Homo sapiens: one gene and its partners. The protein of the gene in region 3 purifies or fractionates together with the protein of the main gene of each other region. This does not show direct contact. Each region holds a gene or a part of one and is shown on either strand. Other genes may lie near its edges.

What was found.
Region 1: the proteins of HAPSTR1 (region 3) and TNPO1 purify together in Homo sapiens (affinity purification with mass spectrometry, with the first as the bait; 2 studies listed by BioGRID). This does not show direct contact.
Region 2: the proteins of HAPSTR1 (region 3) and DNAJA1 purify together in Homo sapiens (affinity purification with mass spectrometry, with the first as the bait; 2 studies listed by BioGRID). This does not show direct contact.
Region 4: the proteins of HAPSTR1 (region 3) and CSE1L purify together in Homo sapiens (affinity purification with mass spectrometry, with the first as the bait; 2 studies listed by BioGRID). This does not show direct contact.

What each region holds. Positions count from the first base shown.
Region 1 is NC_000005.10:72,819,523-72,826,932, forward strand, and holds part of TNPO1 (transportin-1), read left to right. Parts: intron 1-7,410. UniProt on the Homo sapiens protein: Functions in nuclear protein import as nuclear transport receptor. Serves as receptor for nuclear localization signals (NLS) in cargo substrates.
Region 2 is NC_000009.12:33,027,968-33,035,377, reverse strand, and holds part of DNAJA1 (dnaJ homolog subfamily A member 1), read right to left. Parts: intron 5,494-7,410; coding exon 5,389-5,493; intron 4,939-5,388; coding exon 4,711-4,938; intron 1,163-4,710; coding exon 1,048-1,162; intron 1-1,047.
Region 3 is NC_000016.10:9,094,626-9,102,035, reverse strand, and holds part of HAPSTR1 (HUWE1-associated protein modifying stress responses 1), read right to left. Parts: intron 1,112-7,410; exon of another isoform or gene 1,007-1,111; intron 1-1,006. UniProt on the Homo sapiens protein: Acts as a central player within a network of stress response pathways promoting cellular adaptability. The E3 ligase HUWE1 assists HAPSTR1 in controlling stress signaling and in turn, HUWE1 feeds back to promote the degradation of HAPSTR1.
Region 4 is NC_000020.11:49,041,852-49,049,485, forward strand, and holds the start of CSE1L (exportin-2), read left to right. Parts: upstream 1-4,460; 5' UTR 4,461-4,572; intron 4,573-7,634. UniProt on the Homo sapiens protein: Export receptor for importin-alpha. Mediates importin-alpha re-export from the nucleus to the cytoplasm after import substrates (cargos) have been released into the nucleoplasm.

The DNA of each region.
Region 1 (7,410 bases), on a different chromosome or scaffold from region 3:
GTGGATTTGTCCTGGAATTTTCTGGAGTAGATAGAATACATATAGGAATAGTGGCTACATCTTAATCCAAAAAGACACTCCATGCCAGAGCGAATATTACAACTCAGTACTGAAAAAAAGCTGATAACCGTGAGACCATAAAGTTGGGATTGATATATGCCTTTTTAATGGTTAAATTTTTAAAACAAAGCAAAACTTTTCAATGTAGTGTAGAGAACAGGCGCTTTGGAGCCACACTATTTGGATTCAGATTTTGGCACCTTCTGTAATTATCTGTGTGACCTTGGGCAAGTTATTTAATCTCACTTTTTCATCTTATGTTATGAGGATTAAATGAGTTAATACACTAAGCTCTTAAAACTGGGCCTGACATGTATTAACTTTTCTATAAATAATAACTGCTGTTATCATCAATGTCATTATCACTGTTAATTATTTCAGAAAACTATAGAAAACCATAAAATAAAAATTACAAATATCAGTACTACGTAGTAACTACTGTAAGCCCTTTTGCGCATTTCCTTCCAATGTTTTTTTCTGAGTTTATTGGATTTTTTTCACAGTTGAGACTTTACTATGTGAGTAATTTTGTATTCTCACCATAAGCATTTTCTTATGCTACTTAATTATTTTGTCACCATATTTAATGTTTGCATGTTTGTGTGGATTTCTCATTATTAAACAGTTTCTAATTTTTTTGCAGTTATAAGAAACACTGCAATGAACATCCTCATACAAAAATCAATTTCTGCATTCTGGATTATTTAGAGTCCCCAAAGCAAAAATACTGAGTCAAAGTAAACATCCAAAGCTCATGGTCCATACTGCAAATTGCTTTTACTTAAGGGAATTTAATAATGAACTTATTAATATAATAAATTGAGACTACACAGTATTGTTCCTGTTGCTTTGGGATTGGAGGAATAGAGAGTGGATTAACGTTTTCCTTGTAATGTACTAGACATCATTTGTAGGCATTTAACATACATTGTCACTTTCATGTACATTTTTCTCATTTATTATGTTGGCTCTGTGTTATACATGGAAGTTACTTCTATTTTACTGATGAGAAAACAAAGTGTAAATAGGTAAGTACTTTGTCCAAGGGCTCAGAGCGTTCGAGCCTGAATCTGAATCTAGATCTGCTTGACTGCAAAGCTCATCATGCTGTTTTATTTGTATACTTTTATATCATATACATATTCAGAATTTTATACTATAACTAACTATAGATCACAGACCACATTTTTAAGATAGCTAAACTGAGCTGGGAATAATGAATGGGTAAGTTGCAAAGTTAAACAAGACAGGGCTTAACTTTCCACATTTTAGAAAAAGAAAATCTTTACCTGGATGAGATATAATTGGTAACAACTATATAAAACCGGGTTCTAAAGTGAATGCACCAAATATCTGTGGGTGCAATTCTTAATGATCTTAACACAAATAGGTGAGAGAAAACCAAAGAAATCTCAAATTTGATTAAATTTGGGGAATAAGAGAAATGAAAAGGCCCGTAAGTGCTAAAATTGAAATATACGTTTAGTAAAACTCCTGGTAAAGTAAATGAAGGTTTTACTGGGGAAACAAGCAAAAAAATATGTGTTTCACATAAGGAGAATAGAACTGCCTACAAGGTGTAGGAAGTTAAATTTATACTGAAAATTAGAGAAAAATTCATATTTGAGTTGCATTTTATAGATGACTCCGAAGCCATTAGTAAAATAATTTATTAGTGGAGCCCCTTTATCCTAGATGCATATGTTTCTACCACAAATGAAAAAGTTAATGCTAGGAAGGATAAGATTCCACCACTTTTGTTTTTACTAAGAAAGGAATTAAGGAAGAGAAGTATTTCAGCAAATCATGAATATACTAAATAAATGCAAATAAATTATTAGGAATAGGTGGTATCCAACAAGATTTTAAAGATAAGAATATAAAAGTACAGAACTATTGATTATTATGCTACCATTTGAAATTGTGTTTTTGAAAAATATTTAATGAAATTAAATATATATTTTGACTGGAGCATAGCAGAACTAGGAAATGATGAGAGAGCTAGCAAACCATGAAGGACTTTTGTGCCATTTATTAGTGCTGGGATTATCTCTTGTCGAGAGATTTACATACTAGTGGAGAAAGAGATATGTAAATAAACAAGTTCAATAAGTGTATTTACAGCTTTTGTGATATAAATCTGTAAAAACACCAAGAAAGGCCAGTAATAGATTCGTTGAATAGATTAGGGGGAATGTCTGGAGCATTTTGGGAACTAGGAACAGCATTTCAGTGAGTGTGTCAGTAAACATAAAGATCTGCTGTGTTCTTGGAACTCTTAAGCGGTTCAGGGGCCCTGAAAGGTATATAGCAGGGGTCCACAAACTTTCTGTAAAGGGCCAGGTAGCAAATATTTTCTGCTTTGTGGGCCATACCATCTCTACCACTGTAGTGCAAAAACAGTTATGAAACCAATGGTATGGCCAGATTTGACTAAGGTCTTAATTAGACAAACTCTAATATATAGTAGAGAGGGATGTTGAAGAGAGAGAACCTACTGAGCCTTATGTCACCCTATCATGAGCCATTGAAAGATATGAAACGAATCTAGAAGATTGATTTGTATGAATCATTAAGAGCAGAATAAAATAGATTTTTAAAGCACTCTACATCGATTTAAAAGGGAAAACAACTCAGTTTTTTAAGTGGGCAAGTTCCACAGAAGAGGAAATATGGCTAGCAGGTAAACATGGAATAATGATTTACCTCACCAGCAGAAAAATGCAAAGTAAAGCAGTGACTTTTTTTTTTTTCTCATTATACTGGCCAAAGAGAAAAAAGTTTTGTTAGTATGTATTGAGAAGGTTGTAGGGATAACATTGAATATATCGGTACGGCTATTTTAAAGTAAAAATATCTTTGACCCAGCAGTTTCCATTTCTTAGAGAAACACGTGAGTATATCAGGAGTCATGTGTGCTAGGATTAGTCCTTGTTAGTAACCACAGAAACTCCAGACTTCCTGTTCACATTTTGTCTCTGGCATTCCATTCATAAAAAGTTCTACACTTTTTTTTTTTTTTTTTTTGGAGATGGAGTCTCGCTCTGTTGCCCAGGCTGGAGTGCAGTGGCATGATTTCGGCTCACTGCAACCTCTGCCTCCTGGGTTCAAGCAATTCTCCTGCCTCAGCCTCCCGAGTAGCTGGTACTACAGGCACACATCGCCATGCCCAGCTGATTTTTTGTATTTTAGTAGAGATGGGGTTTCACTGTGCTGTGCAGGCGTGTCTCCAACTTCTGACCTCAGGCAATCCGCCCACCTTGGCTTCCCAAAGTGCTGGGATTACAGGTGTGAGCCACTGCGCCCGGCCTGGCCTGGGTCTACACTTTTTTTTTTTTTTTTTTTTTTTTGGAGACACAGTCTAGCTCTCTTGTCCAGGCTGGAGTGGGGTCTATGCTTTTTCTTAAACCTCTTCTCAACTTTTCATACCCTTCTACTGTACTTTGTGAAATTAACTATCCATCATCTGCAAAATCCAGTCTGAACCATTCTTAGATGTTGCTTTCACTTTCTTGCTGTAATGGAAACCGGACTCTCTTCCACTGTGCAGTTGTGGCTGTTTTTGTTTGTTTGCTCCGTAACTTTCCTCCCACTGTTTCTAGAGGTGGGAAAGATATCTGTCATGAGTCTTCTTACTTCTTTCAGACTATGCTTCCTCCTTTCTCCCTATAATCTTCAGTTTTGAATTATGTCATAAAGGCCCACTGTCCCACTCTCCAGTCTTTATATTGAAATTGATAAGAATGTACATAACTGATCCACCCAAACCCTGGCCTCTCACTTCCTAGACCTCTCTTCCAGTGCTCTTCCCATCTATGCTATATCAGCCACTCATTCCACAGTGATACCCTCGTGCACTGTCAATAACTGCAGTCCCTCCATAGTTGCCATTTCATGTGTTCTGCTCTGTTACCGCTTCTTCCTATTTTTGCAGCTCACTCCTAGTGCCTCAGCCCTAACCATCTTCTGACCCCAATGGAATCTCCAACCCATTGATCCTATTACTGCTCCCCTGCCCCTTACCCTCTTGATGTTTTCACTCCCTTTTATGTGGAATTTACTCATCTAAATTTCATGATTAATCAGTTTAATTACTTCTTTGGATCCCTTTCCTTGCTCTTTGCTTGTTTGGCAAAACCAGAGCTCTAGTTAAAACAAACTCTGGGGTTTTTTTTGCACTTGCCCCTATGTAACTGAGCATGGCCAGAAAAAAAACCACACAACCACACATGGCCACAAACCTTAAGTGGGTCTGTAATGCTGCCTGATGGTTGTACTGTATTTTCCTAGTCTGCTTACTCTTCCACTCCTCTAAATGACTATTTCATATCTTATTTTCCCCAAACCTTCTATATCTCTTTTCCCATCCTCACCTTCAGCTCATGACCTTGCTTCCCACTTTGCTGAGAAAATTGAAGTAATCAGAACTTCCATAGATTGCCACCACTCCACATACCTCTGGCACTCTATTTATGAAAGGGTCTGCGCAGCATCTGCTCAGTACATGGCTGTCTTCCTGCCTGTTACCTTAGATTAACTGTTCATATTCTTGTCTGCCTTTGTACTAGGCCCCATTCTCTCTCATCTGCTCAAGGACTTTGCTTCAGGTTCTCTTCTTCCACATCATCAATTTTGTTCTTTTTATTGAATCATTTCTATCAGCAAACAGATATGCTATTATTTCTCCCCTCTTAGGAAAAAATCTTGTCCCACTTCACCACATTACCCCAATTTTTTGTTTCCTTTGGGAGCAGTATTTCTCAAAATAGTTGTCTGTACTTGCTATTGCCAAGTTCTCTCCTCTAGTACTCTGTTAAACCCACTCTAGTGAGGTCTTTGTCTGCACCACTCCCACAGAAACAGCTCCTCTGGTTCTTCAGTAGCCCCCATATTGTTAAATGCCCTGTGTTATTGATTCTCATCCTATGTGACCTGTCAGCAGCATTTGACACAGCTGTTTGCTTCCCTTAGCCTTGAAACCATTTCTTCTTTGCCTTCGAGGACGTCACACGTTCCTGGTTATCTGCTGTCTCAGTGCTGGTCCTTGTAATTCTCCTTTTCCTTTATTTTCACTGACCTCTTAATGTTGGAGAGCCCCAAGTCTTAATTGTTTGTTTATTTGTTTCTATCTATGCTCACTTTATTGGTAATCTCATTTAGTCTCATGGCTTGAAATACCATGTAAATATCAACAATACCCAAATTTAGATCTTTAGCCCCCTCCTCAATTCCAGTCTTACATGTGCAACTACCTATTCAACATCTCCCCTAAATGTTTAATAATAGACATCAAAGTCAGCATATCCAAAACTAAACTCCTAAACTTTCTCCCCAATGCCTGCTTTACCCACAGACTCTCCCATTTCTGTCAGTGGCAACTCCGTCCTCCTGTAGCTCAGACCAAAATCTTGGCCTTATTTTTTTACTTCACTTTTTCTTTTACTCTTCAGATCTGTTCTTTCAGGACAATCTGTTTTCTGTATCGTCAAAATACATCGAAAATCCTATCATGCCTCACTGCTTCCTCCACTGCCACCACCCTTGTCCAAGCCACTACCATCACATCTTGTTGGATTACTGAAATAGGTTACTACCTGGTCTGCCCCTTCTGCCCTATCCCCTTCCAACAGTATTTTCTCAATACAGTAGCCAGAATAAACCTTTCGCAAATTAAGACAGTCCCTGTCACTTCTCCTGCAATGGCTCCTGTTACGATCTGAATGTATGTGTCCTCCCAAACTGTTGAAATCCTAACTCCCAAGGTATTAGGAAATGGGAGTGGAGTCCTCATGAATAGGATTGGTGCCCTTAAAAAGTCCTAGAGGCCAGGTGCGGTGGCTTATGTCCGTAATCCCAGCACTTTGGGAGGCTGAGGTGGGCGGATCATGAGGTCAGGAGATCGAGACCATCCTGGCTAAAACCGTGAAACCCTGTCTCTACTAAAAATACAAAAAATTAGCCGGGCGTGGTGGCACGTGCCTGTAGTCCCAGCTACTCGGGAGGCTGAGGCAGGAGAATCGCTTGAACCCAGGAGGCGGAAGTTGCAGTGAGCTGAGGTCACGCCACTGCACTCCAGCCTGGGTGACAGGGTGAGACTCTGTCTCAAAACAAAACAAAACTCTAGAGAGATCCCTTGCCCTTTGTCTCTTGAGGACACAGCAAGAAGTCTGTGAGCTAGAAAGCAGCCCTCACCAGATACTGAATATGCCTTGCTCTTGGACTTCCCATCCTACAGAATGGTAAGCAATCAATTTCTGTCATTTATAAGCTATCTCATTTATGGTATTTTGTTATAGCAACCCGAATGGACTAAGACATTCCCTTTCATTCACTCAGAGAAAAGCTGGTCCTGTGAGGCTCTACATGATCTGCCCAATCCACTCCACTTTCTCCTTACCTTCCTGACCTCATTTACTGTTACCACTGTTCTCCCCTTACTCACTGGCCTGCTTGCTATGTCTGTCCTGTTCCTACTTTAGGACTCTTGCTGGCTCCACTCTCTGAAATGTACTTCTTCCACATATCTGCTTGGCTCAATGGACTTACCTCCCAGTCTTTGCTCAGATCTTACCATCTATGAATACCCTGTTTAATACTATATTCTATCCTGCCCTTCCCCACCCACTCTTATCCTGGACTCCTTTTTATTTTTTGCATAGCACATACAACCTTCTAACATACTATATTAGGGGTCAGCAAGCCACAGCTCCATGAGCTTCTGCCCTGTTTTTGTACATCCTATAAGCAAAAGAATGGTTTTTACATTTTTAAACGGTTATGAAACAAAGCAAAAAATACGTGACATATATATGTGGCCTGCAAAGCCTAAAATATTTACTCTCTGTCCCTTTTCAAAAAAAGTTTACACTATGTATTTTATTCTGTTTATTGTCCTCCTCCTCCTGCAAGAATACAAGCTCCAAGAGGGCAAGATCTTTGTTTTATTTTTTGCTGTATCTGCAAGATACAGATACAGAGCCTAGAATGTAGTAGACACTTAGTAAGTATTTGTTAAATGAATTGTTCGTGATGGTGCAAAATGGTAATTATGTTAAATGTTCACCAATAGACCTATATATCACAATGAGTAACAAAATCTGTATAATGACTAGGAAAGTTAAGGCGTATTTTGAAGTTTGTTACAGAACAGGCCTAAAACACTTTTTGTTTCTACAGATACCTGTGTATTTAATTCCATAGAGAAGAACGCTACAAGGATACATAACCAAATGCATACTAAAGTACTTCTGGGGAGGGGACCGAGATTAAGAGAGATAGTTGAAAGGAGCTTGAATTTCATATGTATTGTTTGCTTTTCTTTTTTTTAGCAATGAGAAACAGTCACATGTT
Region 2 (7,410 bases), on a different chromosome or scaffold from region 3:
TTAGTCTTTTTTTTTGAGACCAAGTTTTGCTCTTTTTGCCCAGGCTGGAGTGCAATGGCGCCATCTCAACTCACCGCGACCTCTGCCTCCTGTGTTCAAGTGATTCTCCTGCCTCAGGGCCTGCCACCATGCCTGGCTAATTTTTTAATTTTTAACAGAGATGGCATTTCACCATGTTGGCTAGGCTGGTCTTGAACTCCTGACCATCCACCTCGGCCTCCTAAAGTGTTGGGATTACAGGCGTAAGCCACCAAACCAAGCTGAAATATTAATTAATCCTAAACTAGTTTAAGATGTTCCCAATTTCACCTCCACTCCATTAAAAAAAAAAAAAAAAAAAGGTGGGTTCTTACTGTCACCCAGGCTAGAATGCAGTGGCATGATCATAACCTTGAACTCCTGAGTTCAAGCCACTCTTCTGCCTCAGCCTCCCCAGTAGCTAGGACTCCTGGCCTCAAGTGATCCTCCCACCTCAGCCTCCCAAGTTGCTGGGAATATAGCATGCACAGAGGGTGTTATGTTAGCCATGGATCACAAACATTTGCTGTTAATCATCCATCTTTCTTGTGCTTCAGTGTTCATCATACTCATTATTTAGCTCAAAATGGTAGACCTGAATTTATACTTAGTATTGAGTTACAATTTAAGTTTCCTACAGAGATGCTTTTGGATATTTATAATTAAAAGCAATTCAATTTATCATAAATGAGATTGAAAACTGGTGAGAGCTTTAAGGCACTTAAATTGCTTTACAAAGATTGAGGGCAAATTTTTGTCCAGGGATGTTTTCCCCACCCATCTGCTGCTTAGGTTCACACAAAACATCTAATTGAAACACATTTTCAACGTTCCATACTTAGAGACAAAAAGCTAAAAATCTGATCCTATGTATTCAACCTCTTATGATCTGAACAATGGTTAACAATCTTCCTGAGAAATAGGTTCTAAGAGTAATGGAAAACACTTTAAAAAAAACAAAAAAACAAAAAACAAAACCAACAACCCAAATATGTGATATCAATTTGAGTGGTTGATAAAAGTCTTTACCGAGTAAAAACAGCATGGTCCTTCTGATCTAACACAATGATAATATCGCCTGGCTCCAGTCCTGGTTCTTGGTCTCCTTCACCATGGAATGTTATCTTCTGGCCATCTTTCATGCCTAAAAACAAAACATTAATTTTGTACTTTTATTAAATATCCAACTAAGGTCAGAATCATAAAATCTATACATAGATGTTTGTTTATGCATAAAAATCACAGAAATGACTAAGAAAGCCCACTTAAGTAGTTCAGTCCAATTTGCTCCTGAAGAAAGGTATCATAGTGGAGAACACAAACTCCAGAGGCAAAGAGACTAGCCTTCAAATCTCAGAGCTGCTATTCACTGGCTGGATTACCCTGGGGAAGTAAGCTGCATATCCTTTCCAAGTTTCAACTTTCCCACAGACACCTACACCTCATTAGCAATATTTAGAGTATTAACTCAACAGGTATATGCTGGTACTAAACCATGACTGGCTAACACTGGTTATAACCAAAAAATGTTAATTAAGTATTTCAGTTTCATTACTTATAACACATCAAATTACTTCTATTAAAAGTCTAACAGCAATGTAAATCAAGACCCTTCTATTGTAGTATTTATATATAAAACTAAAAAAATTTTAAATCTATAATCTTCTCTTGAGATAGGATCTTGCTCTGTTGCCTAGGCTGGAGTGCAGTGGCACAAACATGGCTCACTGCAGCCTCCATCTCCTGGGCTCAAGTGATCCTCCCACCTCAGCCTCCCGAGTAGCCAGGACCACAGACCAGCTAATTTTTGAATTTTTTTTTTTTTAATAGAGATGGGGGTTCTCATGTCGCTCAGGCTGGTCTTGAACTACTGGGCTCAAGGGATCCTGCCTCGGCATCCTATAGTGTTCGGATTACAGACCTGAGCCCCTGTGCCTGAAAATCCGTATTTTAAAGAACTATTCAGTATAGTCCCCTTAAAAAAAGGGTAATTATACTTTGAGAGGCCGAGTCAGGAGGATACCCTGAGGATAGCACCCTGGAGCACAGGAGTTCCAGACCTTGTCTCATTTAAATTAAACAAGCAAACAAAACAATCAGTGCTAGACACTCCCTTAGCCCATGTGGTCCGTAAAATACAAGGGGAGGAGTATTTTCTAACAGGGCAAAAAAACACGCCTTTTTTTTTTTTTTTAAACTGAGACTTCGTGCCCCTCACCTCTGACCCACATATTTTAGTTCAGTAAGGGTTTGGGCAACGTCTCTTAGAACATAACTCATGTAAGAAAACCTGTGTTTGTAGAGTATTACACCAAAGCAGTTATCTCCTGATTATTTCCCAAGATCACTCTGGTTACCTAACAGAGCAATCATGTTTCACCTTTACGTATGGAAAATATTAATCCTGTATAAACAGAGCCAACAGTACAATGAATTCCTACATATCCATCCAATTTGGCTTCAGCAGTTACTAACTCATGACTAATATTTCATGTATTACACCCCTACGCATGCCCCCCACATATACTTTCAAGCAAACTCCAACTATATCCATTAACCCACAAATACTTCAGTACGTACCTCTTAAATAAGGACTTAAAGCGCTATCAGTATCATACACTGACAAAATTAAACAATCTGTCTTTAATCGTGTATTGAGGCAAAATAACTTGTTATGCTAGGGAAGCAATTAAACTCAGCTAGGTTTTCCTGAATACAGAGTAAGAGTAGGCACAGCACAAATGCCTTCACTTGCTATATAGTTAGGGCATTAATTTCAAGTTCTCACTTACAGTCCATTGTTGATAGGTTCTTGGAAATTGCTTTAAATGAAATGACACATAACAAGACCAATTTTTTTCCCCTCAGCTGTGTTACAGTGACATGACATTATTTGAGGACCTGCATGACATTATTTGAGGTCATTCTGCTAGAAGTCCCAGTTTCCAAGAACCTATCAACAACGTTAAGACTTACTCTGTATGCTATTGGTATCAAGAACACCTCAAAGTATAAACCTTAGGCATGGGCCCACTAAGGGGTAAACACAGATTTATTAAGTTCAACAACTGGCCAAGGAAACTTATTTTTACCTTTCAATGTACTACATTCTTGGGTGGAACCCTGGGGGTCAGAGAGGCCAGTATCATGAGTCACATGATAGAATCCTATTGCAGCCACTTATGTTAATGTAGATTTGTATATTAATATGGAAATATGTTCAAATATTAACAGTTCCAGATTGGTATCATACCACAGTACAGTATAATAGTAGACCCATTTATAAACAGCAAAATCTGAAAAGAGATTACCATAATGTTGACTTAAGTTTCCTTCTGGGGTTATATACATTTCTTAAAATTTCTGCAGTGTATTGCTGTAATACATTTTAAAATGTTTTTGCAAGTTGACAAGAGTAAAATTTAAAAATTGACAAATCAATCAAATCCCGAGAATACAAAAAAAAGGTTATATAGTTATTTCTAAATCTGGAGCCCAATGGGTTAGGGAAGTGTCAAGTCTAAAAAAATGAAAGGTAGTCTATCAAATCAATTAACGGAGCATTTAAATATAATAGATGGGCAAGTAAGCCAATTAAGTGGGCCAATACGCTTATTTAAACTAGCCCAGGCCAGGTATGGTGGCACACACCTGTAATCCCAGCATTTTAGGAGGCCAAGGCAGGCAGATCATTTGAGGTCAAGAGTTTGAGACCAGCCTAACATGGTGAAACCCCATCTCTACTAAAAATACAAAAAAAATTAGCCAGGTGTGGTGGTGCACACCTGTAGTCCCAGCTACCTGGGAAGCTGGGGCAGGAGAATCGCTTGAACCCAGGAGGCAGAGGTTAGAGTGAGCCAAGATCGCATCACTGCACTCAAGCCTGGGCAACAGAGCAAGACTCTACCTCAGAAAAAAACAAACAAACAAAAACATGCCCATTGGTTTAAAAAATAAACATGAGGCGGGGTGCGGTAGCTCATGCCTGTAATCCCAGCACTTTGGGAGGCCGAGGCAGGTCATCACCTGAGGTCAAGTGTTCGAGATCAGCCTGGCCAACATGGTGAAACCCCGTCTCTACTAAAAATACAAAACATTAGCCGGGCATGGTGCTGGGTGCCTGTAATCCCAGGTACTTGGGAGGCTGAGGCAGAAGAACTGCTTGAACCCGGGAGGCAGAGGTTGCAATGAGCTGAGATCGTGCCATTGCACACTCCAGCCTGGGAAACAAGAGCGAAACTCCGTCTCCAAAAAAACCATGAATTTTTATGAGACCCAATTCTTCACCTAACTCCCCTTTCAAATCCTTAAAAGTATGCCTATCCCTTGATCTAGTAACTCCTAATTAAGAATGTGTACAATTCTAATGTTTTAAAAGATGGAAGAACTATGGTTTAACAGGAGAGAATTAAGTTTGGAACACTATTCAATCATTTACAGGACCACAGATTTCAAAAGATGATCCTGTTATATTAAATGAGGAGATTCCTAATATATTCTGTATTAGTAATATACCAATGTGCAAAATTATGTCTGGATAAAAGAACATTATTTACTAAGCTGCTAAGAGTTATTTCTGATTGATAGGATCATATATAACCTAATTAAGAATGATTTTTAAACAATTATAAAATGTTAATAATAAATCTGCCACAGCATTCAAGACTTCAGAATAAGTAACTCAGAACTCACCTTTGTCAATATGAACTTCTAAAATTTTCTTCTCTCGAACTATCTTCCTTCCGTTGCAGCTTTTACATCTATCTTTAGGACTGATCCGCTCCCCATGGCCCTGGCACTCCATGCACACAGACTGAATTTGCTGAACCATTCCAGGTCCTATCTGATGAATTCTTATTTGCATTCCAGTACCTCGGCAATTGGGACAGCACTCTACTGCTCCTTTCTTACCTCCTCTACCTAAATTTAAAAAGAAAATTAAATAATGTATGAATTAGTAGTGTATACAGTAGTAAATGTTTTAAGAAGACAATTCCTAAATGCTATACTTTTAATATTTTCGAAGCCTGATGGAATGCTACCCTCTGAATGTACAACTGATGAGATCATTCCAATGAGTTTCATTCTTATTAGAACACACTTTCCAATAAATTTTACTTATTACAAAAAAGATACCAAACTAGCTTGATCCCAACTGTATTTAAAATATACACAGAAAAAAGTGCTGATATTTCTTTAGGTGGGAGGTTTTCAGTTGGTTTTCTTCATATCTGCCCTCTCCTCCCCCAAAATCTAGGTAGTGTACATGAATCAATTTTACATATCTATCTAGAAGTCTTAGCTCCATTTTCAGGTGTCATATTAAAGGTGCTTAAAAACAAAACAAAACAAAACAAAAAAACACCGTACCTTCACATTTGTCACAAATCACATTCTTTTGCAGAGCCAGTTTTCTTGTTGCACCATTATATAAGTCTTCTAGGGTTACTGAGAGCTGATGTACAACATTTTTACCTAAAACAAAATATTTCTCATTGCAAATCTGTTTAAGATGCTGGATCTTATTTGTGCTAAAGGCACTATAAAGAATGTGGCAAAGAATAATAAAAGATGAGCCTCACAGGGTACATCTGTTGACTACCTACTATATACACAGAATGTTCACGTTATCACAGATGATCCTCAAACTGTGATGTAATCACAGATGAGGGAAAATCAGGTCAGAGATTAAATATTTGCTTAAGGGCACAGACGTGGCCATCTTGGAAATATGGTAAGCAAAAGCATTACCTTCAAAGTCACTTGAGAAAAACCAATGTTATTTAAAAGGGCACATTTCACAATAATCCAAACATTCATTTCTGTCACAATATATTTTTTGAAGCTTTCACTTCGTACCGTATTGAGCAACATGGCCAATTACTTCATCCAAAAATTCTGTAGCACAGTAAATTCTCATTAATCAAGATTGGCCAGGGAAGCTGATGTATTTATTGAGTCACCACAGAAGAGTATCAATTTCTACTTCTTCCTGATTTAGTAGAAAACAGCCCATTTACTGCTGGGCCAGCACTGGTTGTTTTGAAGGCCAAATTTCTCATACCTTTTATAATAGCATTGCCCAACAGAACTTTCTGCAGTGATAAATGTTTTATATCTGTTCTGTCCAACGTAGCAGCCACCAATCACATGTGCTTATTGAGCATGTAAATGTGGCCATTTAGACTAAGAAACCGTATTTTTGTTTTTGTCTTAAATTAATGGAGCCACACATGGCCAGTGGCTACTAAGGAGTGCCTTACTTCACTTAAATCAGAATAGGAAATGGAAGGTCAAGATCTCATAAGGACACTGAGGTTAGAAGTATGAAGTCACCTGCTAGTAAGTTAGTAAGTTCCTAACTAGTGGTCCTTCCACAAGGACTTATTCACAACAATATTATTGCCTTTCCACCAACTGAAAAAAGTTCTCAAACTCGTTTCTGTACAATATGCCTAATGAACATTTTAACTTTCTAATCAAGCATGAAATACCATTAATTATGTCCTTCTGCTTATAGTTCCACCTTTAGTTTTGGCACGCTAAAATCTAGCTGCCCTTATTTTGAACAGTGTTGAGTATAAGGAAGGAAAAATAAAGCTTCTAGAGCTTGATGAAGCGCATTTCCCCAGAAATAACCTCTCAATATGATCATAAGCCACATAAAAGAGCTTGCCAATGTTAACCTGCAGGTTCTTTGTAAGGTAAGTGAAAAACCACCACTACTTTTTTGTGGACAAATTCTAACAATTTACTAAGCAAGTCATTTGGATTGTGGACTTTCTTTTTAAGGAGTTTAAGTATCTTAATAAAAACATAATCCTTTCCTTGAAGATCTTTAAAGAAAAACTGAATAAACAATTTCCCAAATCTTTCTGAACCTTAAGAAGCTCAAAGTGAAATTTAATGGCTTGGCCATTCATTCTAAAACTGGTTCTGCTCATCAGCCCTTATTTGTATACACTATACTGGAAATAAAGTGAGACTGATTTCTCTTGAACATTTTACTCCTATAAGCAGTATTTCTAGAGCCCATAGGCCACTTTCCTGATAAACATATTAAATACATAATTTTGACACAATAAAGCTGAAACAAGAATAGATAGATGGCAGGCAACGAACCAGTTTTCAGCCCTGGCTCTGTTGGCTTGCTATATGAGCTTGAAGAAGTTTTAGGTTTCTGAACTTTAACTTACTCCCATTTGAAAAAGGCCACTGTACCTACCATCAAATTCCTTTGGGGAGTGAGGGAACACCAAATAAGATCTGTAAAAAGGGCTTGGAAAATTATATTGCTATATACTTTGTCTTTTTTTTTTTTTTTTTTTTTTTTTGAGACAAGAGTCTCGCTGTGTTGCTCAGGCTGGAGTGTAATTGGGCGATCTCAGCTCA
Region 3 (7,410 bases):
GGTTCTCCTGCTTCAGCCTCCTGAGTAGCTGGGATTACAGGCGCACGCCACCATGCCTGGCTAATTTTTCTATTTTTAGTAGAGACCGGGTTTCACCATATTGGTCAGGCTGGTCTTCAACTCCTGACCTTGTGATCCGCCTGCCTCAGCCTCCCAAAGTGCTGGGGATTACAGGCGTGAGCCACTGCAACCGGCGGCTTTAATTTCTTGTCTGCTACATCTACAGCAGACTCTCAAAGGATGGGCAATAGTCAAACAATGTAAAGCTATGTTCCAGAAAAAAAAAAAAAAAATCATCCAGACATCACAGAGGATGCCAAGCTGAATTTGCACTATTAAAGAAAATGGCAAGAGGGAAGCACAACAACCAGAACTTTATAATAAGGCCTACTCTTAAGCAGATGACAGTCTTTATTGCTAAAGACAAAGAAAAACAAGGATATTGTCCACAGATCTTTTCTCTTAAAAAAATAATCAAAGTAGGACCTGGGATGTTAAAAAGAAAGAAAAAATACTTTAAAATGAAAAGGACCAGGACAAGAATTCAACATCAATTTGGAAACCTGATATGCTATAGAGTGCATTCATATCTTCTCCATCACAACTCTGAGAAGGTGGATTATTCTAATTTTACAAATATAAAAAGCAGCTCAAGAGTGAAGTAACTTCTCCAGTGTCTCACTACTGGTATAACATGAATCAATAATTTTGATTTCTCACTTCTTCATAAACAAAGCATGAACTCCATTTTGAATGTAAATAACAGTAGAGAGGGTCACCACTTTTCCCATCTCTTTAGGAAAAGATTTAGATGAGCCAACCCTAAAGGGGTGGACAAACCTAAAGATGACCTTGTAGTGCTGTACCTAAAACTTAAATGATTCTGAAAGAGCTGGAGGCATTAAGAGAAATCAAGTCATTGACCAACTAAACTTATCACACCACATAAAGGATAAATGTAAAATGTGTTAACCTAGAAGCAATCAGGTTTTTAAACCTATCCTACCTAGAAGAATTGCTTTTAATCAAGCTTGTAAATGAAGAAGTTTCTGTTTCTGAAGAGAATGAGGGTATTTTATTCTTCAAAAGCCAAATGGAGGTAAGCCCAGCCCTGCAGAAACAGAGGAAAAAAAGTCTAAAGCATAGTAAAAGGGATACAAGAAACAAGTCTGAAGCAGGCTTGGAGAGTGCAAAGAAAGATGGCCAGGCATGGTGGCTCATGCCTGTAATCCTAGCACTTTGGGAGGCCAAGGTGGGTGGATCACCTGAAGTCAGGAGTTCGAGACCAGCCTGGCCAAGATGGCAAAACCCCGCCTCTACTAAAAATACAAAAATTAGCCAGGCATGGGTGGTAGGCACCTGTAATCCCAGCTACTCGGGAGGCTGAGGCAGGAGAATCACTTGAACCTGGGAAGCAGAGGTGGCAGTGAGCCAAGAATGCGCCACTTCACTCCAGCCTGGGCGAAAGAGTAAGACTCTCTCTCAAAAAAAAAAGATGAAGTAAGCATGTAAACATACACCTGGCAAACCAGACAGCAAAAAAAGAGAAGCTAAACTTGATACAAAACTCAAGGGCCAAAAGGAAGGGGCCACGTGAGGTGTTTAAAAAAAAAAAAAATATCCTGTGAAGAGCTTGGCCAAGTTTTGGGTTGTTTTGATTGAAGACACAAGAAGTCCAACAGTCAGATCTGCAAGGGACTAATGGTTTCATCACAGATTTGAACATCGGGAAAACTCAGTAATCACTAGTGGCCTGGCTTAGATGTAAGACACTTATGTAACAAGTTGTGAACCTCTTTTAAAAAATTATGCAACTGACCAATTATTTCACCTCAAAAATTCTGAGATAACCAAGTCTCAATGTCAGAACCCACTATGAGCACACTAGAAGTCATGCATTTTGCAAACACTACCCTTACAGACTAGAAGGTCCTAGAGGAGAAAAGCAGAAACAACATTTAAGGTTTTAGGTATGTTTTTGCTCCACCGGGGCATAATGTAGTTTTGTACTGTTAACAGTATATATTCTGAAAACCAAGTCCAATTGCCTTACCACTCAAACCCAACCTCAGTTATTTCCCAAAATACAAAGTCCCATGTAAATGGTGAAGTATTTAAAATAGAGTCCTTTTTAAATAGTTACCTGACTGAAAACAAACCTTTCTCATAACTTGAGCTAATTAGGAGACCTGCATGCTTACTGGAGAATCTTAGGCATGACTACATTTTAACATAATCCCAGGACAAACTAGTGTACAGTGGATAATCTCATACACACACACACGGCCTCTTGAAGGCTCTCAGCCAAACACTGCTCTGAGCACACCCCAATTCTAGAAGCGTGGACTTTCGGGTACCTATCCCAGAAAAACAGCACAGAAGCTGTGGCCAGTCTTGCGTCCAACACTATTTTACAGAAACCAAAGTCACTGTGAAAAAGAGCCACATACTTGAAGGTTAGGCAAACTCCACAAGCACTGAAATGTCAATCTAACCTTTAACCACAACACATTCATTTCCTTATTCAAAAAAGGAACTGGGCGGGCATGGCACAGTGGCTCATCCGTGTAATCCCAGCACTTTGGGAGGTCAAGGTGGGTGGATCACTTGAAGCCAGGAGTTCGAGATCAGCGTGGCCAACATGGTGAAACCTCATCTCAAAATATAAAAATTAGCCAGGCATGGTGGCAGGCACCTCTAATCCCAGCTACTTGGGAGGCTGAGGCAGAAGAGTCACTTGAGCCTGGGAAGCAGAGGTTGCAATGAGCCAAGATTGCACCATGGCACTCCAGGCTGGGTGACACGCAAGACTCCATCTCAAAAAAAGAAAAAAAAAAGAAAATGAACTGATTCATACACCAGTCATAGCAGGTATCCCATATTTCCCTTTTTTTTCTTTAAATGCTTTTATATAAGCATGGGAAACTGAATCCAAGAGATTTTAGAAGACAAATTCTCCCACCACAACGGGCTGGGGTGGGGGCAGAGGGCAAAGAATTATATTGATTCTGAAGACCAAATCATAACTTTCTTACATAACTGCATAAAATTAATCAGATTACTCTACTTATAGCTTTTTGATACACATTGATTCATGTGAATTAGAGCAGGTATCGCAAGTTTGTAACAAGGAACTGAAGTTCAAAGGGCCTTGTGTCCAAAGTTCATTGACAGAGTTCCCTCTGTGACCTCTCTTCCTCAAATGAGAAGCCATCTCTCAATTGCAGACAATCTACAAACCATAAGAGCACAATGCTACATCAAAGCAACACTTCTAAAGAAATACTACTGACTACGTGATTTTTAAACTTAAGAATTAAATTTGCACTAGCCAGTCCACCACACAGAAAAATATTTTATTCTTTTTTGGGAGGAAGGGTAGAGGCAGGGTCTCACTATGTTGCCCAGCCTGATCTCAAACTCCTAGCCTCAAGATCTCAAGAGAACCTCTCCCCTCAGCCTCAAGTGCTGGACTACAGGTGTGAGCCCTGGCACTCCAACCAGTAAAGAAAATGTACTGTTTCTTTAGGAATGTAACAATCTAAGTCACAGCCAAAATAAAACTGTTCCCAATCGTATTCCCTAAGGAAGTGGCATCCAAAAATAAGCACACCTCCTAGCTACTTATGTATTTACTTAATCTTCACCTAGCACACAAAACAAAGGACCAGGAACCAGGGGGATAATATTTTGTGTGTGTGTGTGATGGATTTTCGCTCTTGCTGCCCAGGCTGGAGTGCAATGGCCTGATCTCGGCTCACCACAACCTCCGCCTCCCAGGTTCAAGCAATTCTTCTGCCTCAGCCTTCCGAGTTAGCTGGGATTACAGGCATGCACCACAATGCCCAGTTAATCTTTTATTTTTAGTAGAGATACGGTTTCTCTCCATGTTGGTCAGGCTGGTCTCAAACTCCCGACCTCAAATGATCCTTCCGCCTCAGCCTCCCAAAGTGCTAGGATTACAGGCGTGAGCCCCCGCCCCAGCCCTGGGGGAGCATCTTAATAACCACTGTTTGTTGCCTGCCTGGCATCCAATCCTTGTCCTCCCCTTCCTAAAAGCACTCCAGGTTTTTGTTTAGATAGCAACCATGTTTCGAGAGAAGCTCCCTCCACATTTGCTCAAGGGGTTGTGGCTTAGCTCTCAACTCATGTGCATAACCCTATGTACCCCTATTAATGGTTGTGGGTAAGCAAGTGACCCCGTTATGGCCAAGAGATGACAGAAGTCATTTTTAGGCTCTTCTAAGCTTTACTGAGTGGCTCTAAGATGTGAGCCACAAGCCATTCTGCCAACATAATGAAGCCAGCCTGATAACAAAGTGTGCGAGTGCACACAGGGGAGAACAGAGCAGGGGAGCCTGGGCTGCTCAATTAAGTCAATCCTACTGTGGCCTTTTAAGTCAGAGGAGCCAATACATGGCCATACAGCTAAAGCCAGCCCAACTTGTGTTTTCTCATACTTGCAACCAACATATTCTTTCACAGAAAAACTACACACAGGCTGGGTATGGTGGCTCACAGTTATAATCCCGGCACTTTGGCAGGCTGAGGCAGGTGGATCGCCTGAGCTCAGGAGACCAGCCTGGGCAACATGGCAAAACCTCATCTCTACCAAAAATACAAAAACTTAGCTGGGCATGGTGATGGGTGCCTGTGGTCCCAGCTACTCAGTGGCTGAGGTGGGAGGATCACTTGAGCCTGGAAGGTGGAGGTTACAGTGAGCTGAGACAGCACCACTGCACTCCCACCTGGGTGACAGAATGAGACCCTGTCTCAAAAGAAAAAAAAAAAAAAAGAGCCAGGCGCGGTGGCTCACGCCTGTAATCCCACCATTATGGGAGGCCAAGGCGGGCGGATCACCTGAGGTCAGGAGTTCAAGACCAGCCTGGCCAACATGGTGAAACCCCGTCTCTACTAAACATACAAAAAGTAGCCTGGTGTGGTGGCAGGCGCCTGTAATCCCAGCTACTGGGGAGGCTGAGGCAGGAGAATCGCTTGAACCAGGGAGGCGGTTGCAGTGAGCCGAGATCACGCCATTGCACTCCAGCCTGGGGGACAAGAGCGAGACTTCGTCTCCAAAAAAGGAAAAAAAATAAGAGCTACACACAAAAAAAGCAGTCTATTATAAAAAATAAGTATTATGTATAACTGAGGCTACTGCTTCTGACAAAGCTACAATTTTTTCATTAAAAAAAAATTTTAAGACACGGGATCTCACTATATTGCCCCAAGCAATCCTCCTGCCTCAGCCTCCCAAAGTGCTGGGATTACAGGCATGAAAAGTTAAATAGAAATTTAATGCTTAGGGTTTCTCACTGTAATCCACACTAAGGTATTTTGAACAAAGTCTCAAACTCAGTAATAATTTTTTGCAGCCAAGTGAGTCACAAACCAGCTCCACCAGTCTCCAGGTAGAATATGATTTCTGGCCATTTGTTTCTAAGTCACCTGCCACTTGGCCCACACATTTACAGTTATGCTCAGTTCTCCTTTAGTGTACGAGTCCAAAATGGCCACACTGAAGTGAGACATATAAAGAGGGCTTGGCATCAAGATGTATCAAAAGTGAGGACTTAAGGGCATCAGACTATTTTTCCCACCTGTCAATTCTACTTACATTTACTCCAATTAGGGAAAGAAGATGAAGAAGGAAATACACACCAGAGTTTATTTCAACACAAAAAAAATTTTTAAAAAGACAGAAAATAAACTATTATTACTTCCCTTCATTTTAAGCACTGCCCACATTGAGAAAAATCCAAAAAATACTTAAAACTTGACCACCAACACAATGAATGCCAGAGCACTCACTATGCCAGGCACAAAGCTAAGAGCTTGTACTAGAATCTGTGGTAGTTATCCCTATTTAAGTTAATTAAGTCAAGGAGCACAATGGTGAATTAACACCTGGCTTCACTGTCTCCAGGACCATAAAGGTAAGAAGTAACAGAGCCAAGATCTGAACTCAGGCAATGTGGCAGTAGACTCCAACTCACAATGACACTGGGTAAACATCAACCCTAGCCAGATTAAAATGATTTTTTACTCCCCTTCTTTAGTTCCAGGAATCAAAAAATATACTGATCTAAGGATACTACTGAATATTGAAGAAACACCATCCTCTTTGCATTTATCAAATCAAAAACCAGCAGTCAGTATTTTGGCTTCCTTCCTTTTTTGGAAAGGGGAAGACAAGTCTGACCCTACTATTTACAGTAGAGGTAACCACCCACTCCATTTTATTGAATTCTGTCCTTGCTGAAGTTCAACTTACATTTACATTATCTTCCAAATCCTTCTAGCCACATTCCAACCAAACCAATTAACTCAATTTTCAACTTTTCAAAAGCCCTCTGACAACTAAAAGCGACCCTCTGCTGGGTTTTTAATCTCAATCCTGACCTTCTTAATGAAGGTCAGGATTGAGATAAACACCTAATGAACTTCTTGGTAGTTATCAAGAAGCTGGTAGGAGTGCCAAATTGTCCCCAGGCTGCACAATAAGCCATTTTTACCTTGTCAGATATTATACAAAATACAGGAATGCTGCCTGCTGCCCACTTAGAAGTATCCACCAAATTTTTCCCCCCTTAAATTATATTTAAATATTTAATCAGAACTATAACCAATATCATTTAAATTTAGTACTACTTACTGCTGCATGCACTTGTGACACCACCTTGCTAATTTTATTGGTTCTATTTAAGGTAACCAATTATTCCTACAGCTGTATGCCTGTTCTCTAAAGACCACACCCTGAAAAAGAAAAAGTGTGAGGCTATCCAGAGTATTATCCACACACTCCTTGAATCAAATAAGAAAACGTTGCACTATCAAATTCCACAAGACACAACTTACCATTTCTATTAGGCAAGGGATGTGTTTTCACTGTACAGAAACAAGGTACAAAATAAAACTAGTTCAGACTAACAATCTAGCATTTACAATAATCCAAGAATCATATGTGATGTTTTCTAAAAATAAAATTAATGTTCCTCCTTAAGTTTTCTGAGCAGGAAAACAAACAAATTGTAAACATTTTTAAATGAAGTAATCAAATTAAGGATTATTTCAGAGTTCAACTGCTGAACCCATCTTCTTACACGAAAAGTTAGCACTAACGAAAACTGCTAGGTTAGTCCTAAAGGGACACATTCTACAAGAACCCAACAGGACCAAAGCCAGAGGACAATCCCATTTTATACGGCCTAGGCTAAGAACCTGGCACATAAAAACACTAAAAATGTGTTGCCTTCCCCTTCAAGCACAAAGCAATACCAACAAAAGCAAAAGAATAAACCATGGTACTGCCACACCATAGAGTAATACTAGCCAATCAAAAGGCACTGAACTATGCACACCTGCAATGCGAACTCGATGGGTGAACCTTATCATAGTAACTGGAACAAG
Region 4 (7,634 bases), on a different chromosome or scaffold from region 3:
CTCACTGCAACCTCTGCCTCCTGGGTTCAAGCAATTCTCCTGCCTCAGCCTCCCAAATAGCTGGGATTATAGGCACACAGTACCACGCCCGGCTAATTTTCATATTTTTAGTAGAGATGGGGTTTCACCATGTTGATCAGGCTAGTCTCAAACGTGTAGATTTTTATAACATATAAACATATATTTAAACAGAAATAAGCCAGGTGCAGTGGCTCACGCCTGTAATCCCAGCATTTTGGGAGGCCAAGGTGGGCAGATCACCTGAGGTCAGGTCAAGACCAGCCTGGCCAACATGGTGAAACCATCTCTACTAAAAATACAAAAATTAGCTGAGTGTGGTAGTGGGCGCCTGTAGTCCCAGCTACTTGGGAGGCTGAGGCAGGAGAATTGCTTGAACCTGGGAGGCGGAGGTTGTAGTAAGCCAAAATCGCGCCACTGTACTGTACAGCCTGGGCAACAGAGTGAGATTCCATCTCAAAAAAAAAAAAAAAAATTAAAGTGCCTCCATTTTAAAAAAGATAAGAAACAACAATCAGATACTTCTCAATGTTTAGCTGTTAACACTCTTCTGCATCTCAGTTGGGCTTTAAAAGCGAGATTGAGACATAAGACTTGTTCTTTCCCAGCATAACCAGATGTGTCCACGCCCTTCTGGATCCAAATAAAATGTAAAGTTATCTTCCTCAAGGAGCACACCATAGACAATGTGTCTTTTCAGAATGTCTTTCCTTACATTAGACAGATTGGGGTTTTTTTTGTTTTTGCGCGGGGGGACAGAATCTTGCTTTGTCGCCCAGGCTGGAGTGCAGTGGTGCGACCTCAGCTCACTGCAACCTCTACCTCCCAGGTTCAAGTGATTCTCCTGCCTCAGCCTCCCAAGTAGCTGGGATTACAGGCACCCACCACCACACCCGGCTAATTTTTGTATTTTTAGTAGAGATGGGGTTTCACAATGTTGGCCAGACTGGTCTCGAACTCCTGACCTCGGGTGACCCATCCTGTCCTCCCAAAGTGTTGGGATTACAGGCGTGAGCCACCATGCCCAACCTAGACAGATTGTTTTATAAGGGTTTAGAAAGAAAGGAAACTACATGAATGAGTACTTAGTCTCCTGCTCCTTGAAGTGGATGAATTGTTTTCTTTGGTTTCCAACACAGTCTGTTAAGAGTTGTAGCACGCCCCAAGAGTATGTGCATGTAGTGGAGCTGGGATGGGGAGGATTCCCAAGGGAATCTTTAGCTGTCACCCATGAACCATGCAGAGTGGAGAAGGACACTCAGCCTTTCTGTGGCTCTCACCTGCATGATTATTCTGGTGGCTGCAAAGGGCGATAGGCAGTAGGAGGAGACACCCCGTGACACCAAGAGCTGTGTCCAGACATGATCGTCTTGGCACAGCTTGAGGGTTTTCTACAGAAACTGGTAGAGATGCTAGACAGACACAAGATGCCAGCCAGCCTCCTTTGCGATTGGCTCTTAGAGGTGGAAAATGGTAAAGTCATCAGGCTCATTCTCCCTAGGACTAGAGGAACATGTTAATTATATTAAAGTAGATTAGTGGGCCGGGTGTGGTGGCTCACGCTTGTAATCCCAGCACTTTGGGAGGCCGAGGCGGGCGGATCATGAGGTCAGGAGATCAAGACCATCCTGGCTAACACGGTGAAACCCTGTCTCTACTAAGAATACAAAAAATTAGCTGGGCATGGTGGCGGGCGCCTGTAGTCCCAGCTGCTCGGGAGGCTGAGGCAGGAAAATGGCGTGAACCCAGGAGGTGGAGTTTGCAGTGAGCCGAGATCGCACCACTGCACTCCAGCTTGGGCAACAGTGTGAGACTCCGTCTCAAAAAAAAAAAAAAATGCAGATTAGAACGATTAAAATGATTACTGGTGATTACTGGTACTATTGCTGCAATAGTAAAAATACATCTTTTTCACCAATGTCTTTGTTTTTTTTTAAAATGTTCCACCGTCTTCTGACCATCATGGTTTATTTTTATTTTTATTTTATTTATTTATTTATTTTTTTAAGACACAGTCTCGCTGTCACCCAGGCTGGAGTGCAGTGGCTCGATCTCGGCTCACTGCAGCCTCTGCCTCCCAGGTTCAAGCGATTCTCCTGCCTCAGCCTCCTGAGTAGCTGGGACTACAGGCGCATGCCACCACATCTGGCTAATTTTTGTATTTTTGTAGAGACAGGGTTTTACCATGTTGGCCAGGATGGTCTCGATCTCCTGACCTCATGATCCGCCTGCCTCAGCCTTCCAAAGTGCTGGGATTACAGGCATGAGCCACCGTGCCCGGCCTCACCAATGTCTTTCACTCATGTATCTTTCTCCATGGACTTCACTTATTTATATATGGCATTTCATTCAACATGCAACAAACATTTATTAAGCAGCTACTGTGTGCCTAGTGCTGGGGGTACAGCTGTGAATACCATCAATATGGGGCTAGATGTGGTGGCTCACACCTGTAATCCCGGGGCTTTTTTTTTTTTTGAGATGGAGTTTCGCTCTTGTTGCCCAGGCTGGAGTGCAATGGCAAGATCTCAGCTCACCGCAACCTCTGCCTCCCGGGTTCAAACGACTCTCCTGCCTCAGCCTCCCAAGTAGCTGGGATTGCAGACGTGCGCCACCACACCCGGCTAATTTTGTATTTTTAGTAGAGACGGGGTTTCTCCATGTTGGTCAGGTCTCAAACTCCCAATCTCAGGTGATCTGCCTGCCTCGGTCTCCCAAATCACTGGGATTACCGGCGTGAGCCACCATGCCCAGCCCTATCCCAGTGCTTTAGGAGGCGGAGGTGGGAGGATCACTTGAGGCCAGGAGTTTGCCTGGGCAACATAGTGAGAGCTCATCTCTACAAAAAAATTCAAAATTAGCCAGGTGTGGTGGCAGGTGCCTGTAGTCCTAGCTACTCAGGAGGCTGAGGTGGGAGGATTGCTTTAGCCTAGGAGGTCGAGGTTGCAATGAGCTATGATTGTGCCATTGCACTGCAGCCTGGGTGACAGAGCAAGACCCTGCCTCTTAAAAGAAAAAAAAAAAAAAAAAAAAAGCCCTGGCCAGGCGTGGTGGCTCATGCCTGTAATCCCAGCACTTTGGGAGGCCAAGGCTGGCGGATCACAAGGTCAGGAGTTCAAGATCAGCCTGGCCAATATGGTGAAACCCCGTGTCTACTAAAAATACAAAAATCAGCGGGGCATGGTGGCGGGCACCTGTAGTCCCAGTAACTTGGGGGGCTGAGTCAGGAAAATTGCTTGAACCTGGGAGGCAGAGGTTGCAGTGAGCTGTGACAGCACCACTGCACTCCAGCCCTCCAGCCTGGGCGACAGAGCAAGACTCTGTCTTTAAAAAAAAAAAAAAAAAAGAAAAGCCCTTGCTGTATAGAATCCCTTAGGTTATGGATGGGGAGGAGGGCAGGGGTTTAGGAGGGGAGAAGCGGAAGGAGGAACAAAATAAAGAAGAGACAATTAGTTGGAGAGTGATAAATACCATAATGATATCATGGAACTAGGCTTACCAGATCAAACACTGGGCACCCAGTTCAATGTGAATTTCAGATAAGCAATGCATGATTTTTAAGTATAAATATGTCCTACACAGTATTTATACTAGAAAATTATAAATTTTTTTCTAAAATTTACATTGACCTGGGCAGCCTGCATTTTATTTGCTAAACCTGGCAACCCTAATTTGTGTGCTGGGTGGTGGTGAGTGGGCAATTTCAGATAGGCCTCTTTTGTGGAGGTGACATTTGAGCTGGAACCTAAATGTAAAGAAGGAGCCAATCATTCAGGAATCTAGAACATCCCAGCACAGGGAACAGCAAGTATAAATGCTCTAAAGTGGAAATAAGCTTGGAGCTTAGAGGAACAGGAAGAAGGTGGGGTGGCGGAGCTGAGTGAGGGTGAGGAGAGGAGGGAAGCGGAAGGTGATGAGGGCAGGCAGGCTGGCAGGGGCCAGATCCCATATGGTTTGTGGGCTGTAATAAGAGTACCAAAACTTACATACCAGGCCAGGCGCGGTGGCTCACGCCTGGAATCCCAGCATTTTGGGAGGCCAAGGTGTGCGGATCACTTGAGGCCAGGAGTTCGAGACCTGTCTGGCCGTGTCTCCCTCTAAAATAGAAGCTCCAAGAGGGGCAGGAAGTTCTCTTCCGTCTTAGACCCTATGTGCACGACCTTGGATCGATCAACATTGAACACCTCCTACGTGCCAAGCCCTGACATCAAAATGGGTCAGAAGCCAGCAGCCGCTCGCTGAATCTGTGTTCCTCTTTGGAAAACGAGAACCGTGAAGCCTGCTGGCATGGTCAGAGCCAAAGAGCATTGTCACTTGTGAGATCAGCGCAGAAACAGAGCGGGGCCCCGATTGGCCCTTCGAACTTGGGTGGGGCCAGAGCATTCCTGGCCCCGCCCCCTGCAGCGGGCCGCTCGCTCATGCGCTCTGGCCTCAGGCTCGCTGTCGCGCCATTTTGCCGGGGTTTGAATGTGAGGCGGAGCGGCGGCAGGAGCGGGTAGTGCCAGCTACGGTCCGCGGCTGGGGTTCCCTCCTCCGTTTCTGTATCCCCACGAGGTGAGGCGCGGGGCGTGCACGGCCTACCAGAGTGGCTCTTGGGGCCCAGCTGAGGAAGGGATGAGGCGCTCCCGGTACTAACGAGCGCTAGGGAGTGAGAACCGCGCCTCTGGGCGAGAGCGGAATGTGGGCCCGGGGTTCGGGTGGTGCGCTCAGGCAAGGTCTTCGGCTTCCCTAGGGAGCGCTTGCCGCGCCTCGCGGCATCCTAGGTCTCTGGCCCAGGTGCGGCGACCCCAGGGCCTGTGAGGGCTGAGGGCAACTGAGGCGCGGCCTAACGCGAGCCTGCGGATTGCCCGCCCTTTCCTCTCCATCACGGCGCTGATTGGCTGCGCCGCCGCCTCTCCGCTCGGGAAGGCCGCTCCTTATTGGTCGCGCTCGCATGTCCATTCTCTGCGACGGTGGCTGCTAGCCGCGCGAGCTGAGTGTGCGGCGGCGAGGCCTGCCCGGGCGGGGACTGCGGGCGCGTGGAGCTGCGGCTGCCTCGCGTCGTCCCTTGCCCTAACTCTAGTGAAGCCCCCGAACTCACCCTTCTCTAACCTCTGTACTTGTATCCCTGACTGTAAAACGGGCATCGTGATCTCACTTTGCTGAATTGTTTGTGAGAATTCTAGTCGGTACACCCGGGACATAGAAATCCCCTGTAACGCGGGTTGGGGGAGGGTTCCCTCGTTTTGGGAGAAACGCTGTGCTGTGGTGGTTCGGAGCATAGACTTTGGAATTAGATCGCCTGGGTTCATTCCAGACGTAGCCTCTCGTTAGGGGTGTAACTTGAGGCTGGTCACCTCATCTCACTGAGCCTCCATTTCCTTAGCTGCAAAATGGGGTTAATAACAGAATCTACCTCGGAAAGTGGCTTTGAGGATGCGCTGAGTTATTTACCGTGGTTTACAAAGGTTCCCTGGGAGCTGACGGTTGTTTATTCATCTCTCCCACCCATCTTTCTCCTTAGCCAGTGTGGCTTTCTGTTTCTTCCATATTCCAGGGTTATTCCGATTTAAAATTATTTGCACATGCCTTTTGTTTGCTGGGGAAGTACCAACATTTTTGCAAGGCAGGCCGCCTCTCCCAAGTTTCCCTCACCTTAGGCCTCCCCTAACCAACCTCTTCTTTTGTTTTCTTTTTCTTTTTCTTTTCTCTTTTCTTTTTTTTTTTTTTTTTTTTTTTTTTTTGAGAGAGAGAGTCTCGCTCTGCCTCCCAGGCTGGAGTGCAGTGGCGCGATCTCGACTCACTGCAACCTCCGCCTCCCGGATTCAAGCGATTCTCCTGCCTCAGCCTCCCGAATAGCTGAGACTACAGGTCTGAGACTACACGCCACCACACCCGGCTAATTTTTGTATTTTTATTAGAGACGGGGTTTCACCATGTTGATCAGGCTGTCTAATCAACCTGTCTAGGACCTTTCTCCCATGGCTCTCCATCAACATCACCTGGTTTTAGTTACTTCATAGCATTTACTAACACTTACTTATTGCTTACTTGTTATCTTTCTCAACTGCTAGAATGTAAGCTGTTTGAGAGCAAGGACCTTGTCTGTCTTGCTTACTTCTCTCTCCCTGGTGGGTGCCATCCCACCTGTGCTTGCCACATGGTAGATGCACAAGTATTATTCTTCCTTGGAGGCACAGAAGGGGACCCTTTAGTCTTGGATTCCACCAATTGCTCTTTTTCTCACCTTGGGCCCACATAGTCATATCTTTGGCCTTTCTCTGTGTGTGTCTCTCTCTTTTTTTTTTTTTTTTTTGACATGCTTTCAGAGGATCCTAATGGACCTCGTCTCTCCGCTCCTACAACCCTTTATCTTTCACTTCTTACCATCAGTGCAAGGGAAGTCTCTCTCCCCTTCTGATTACTTCTGCTGGTTGGGGTCTGGGACAGGATTGGATGGATGCAAGAGCAGTGCTCTAGTTTTGGAATTAATTTGTTTCTTTATTCATTTAATAACTTTATTGAGCATCCACTTAATCTCTGGGAATATAGTGAAAAAACAAAAATGGACAAGGTCCCTTCCCTTGAGGACCATGTATTCTCGTGGGCGAAAGAAAAAACATTAGATAATTTCAGATAGTGACAGAATTATGTGACAGGTGAAGAAGGCTTTTCTGAGGAGGTGACATTTGGGTAGAGACCAGCCATTAAAAGGTGAGGGGCAGAACATTCCAGGTAGAGGGAATAGAAGGCTCAAGGCTCAAGGACAGGAACCGGCTTGGAATATTGAAATATTTAAGGAATATCTTAGGTTCCTAGAGTGTTACATGAAGAAGGGAGAAATATCCAGGACCCGGATCATAGAAGGCTTTGTAGGCAATGTAAGGAGTTTGGATTTGATTCTAAGTGGTATATTCCTATGGTTAGAAAGCAGAGGGTAGGTTGAGGTGTTGGGATATGTTCTTCATGTGTGGGTGCCAGATAGTTTTCATTCATTGGATCTCTTTCCCTCTTCCCAAATGTAAGGCCTCGGGAATGGTTCTCTAATGTGTTGAGGACATATCTAAGAAAAAGGCAGACATCTTGGATCAGCTTATGTCACAGATGTCTGTGAGATGGCTTTGGAAAACAAAGCTTTTATTCCAGAAATCTCCACCTGTAATTGAGGGCCTGTGGGAAGATGCTAGACTTAGGTCTGGCCATTCATTCAACAAGAAGAACTTGGAAATTTAGATGTCTGCCATAACTGATTTATTGTGATGCTTTTTTAAGTTTCTTAATTGTGTATTGGTAGAGATTTCCAAAGATAGTTACGTGGAGAAAGAAAAGTATCACCCCCTCATTTAAAGGTGATAAAAATGAATTCTTATCTTCTCCCTCCCTTTTTTTTTTGGAGACACCATCTCACTGTGTTGCCTGGGCTGACCTGGGCTCAGTCTATCCTCCTACCTCAGCCTCCCGAGTAGCTAGGACTACAGGCGTGCACCACCACACTCAACTAATTTTTATTTTTTTTTTGTAGAGATGGCACCATGTTGCCCAGGTTGGTCTCAAACTCCTGGACTCAACCAATCTGCTTACCTTGGCCCCCCAAAGAGCTGGGATTACAGGCATGAGCCACCCTACTTGGCCAAAAT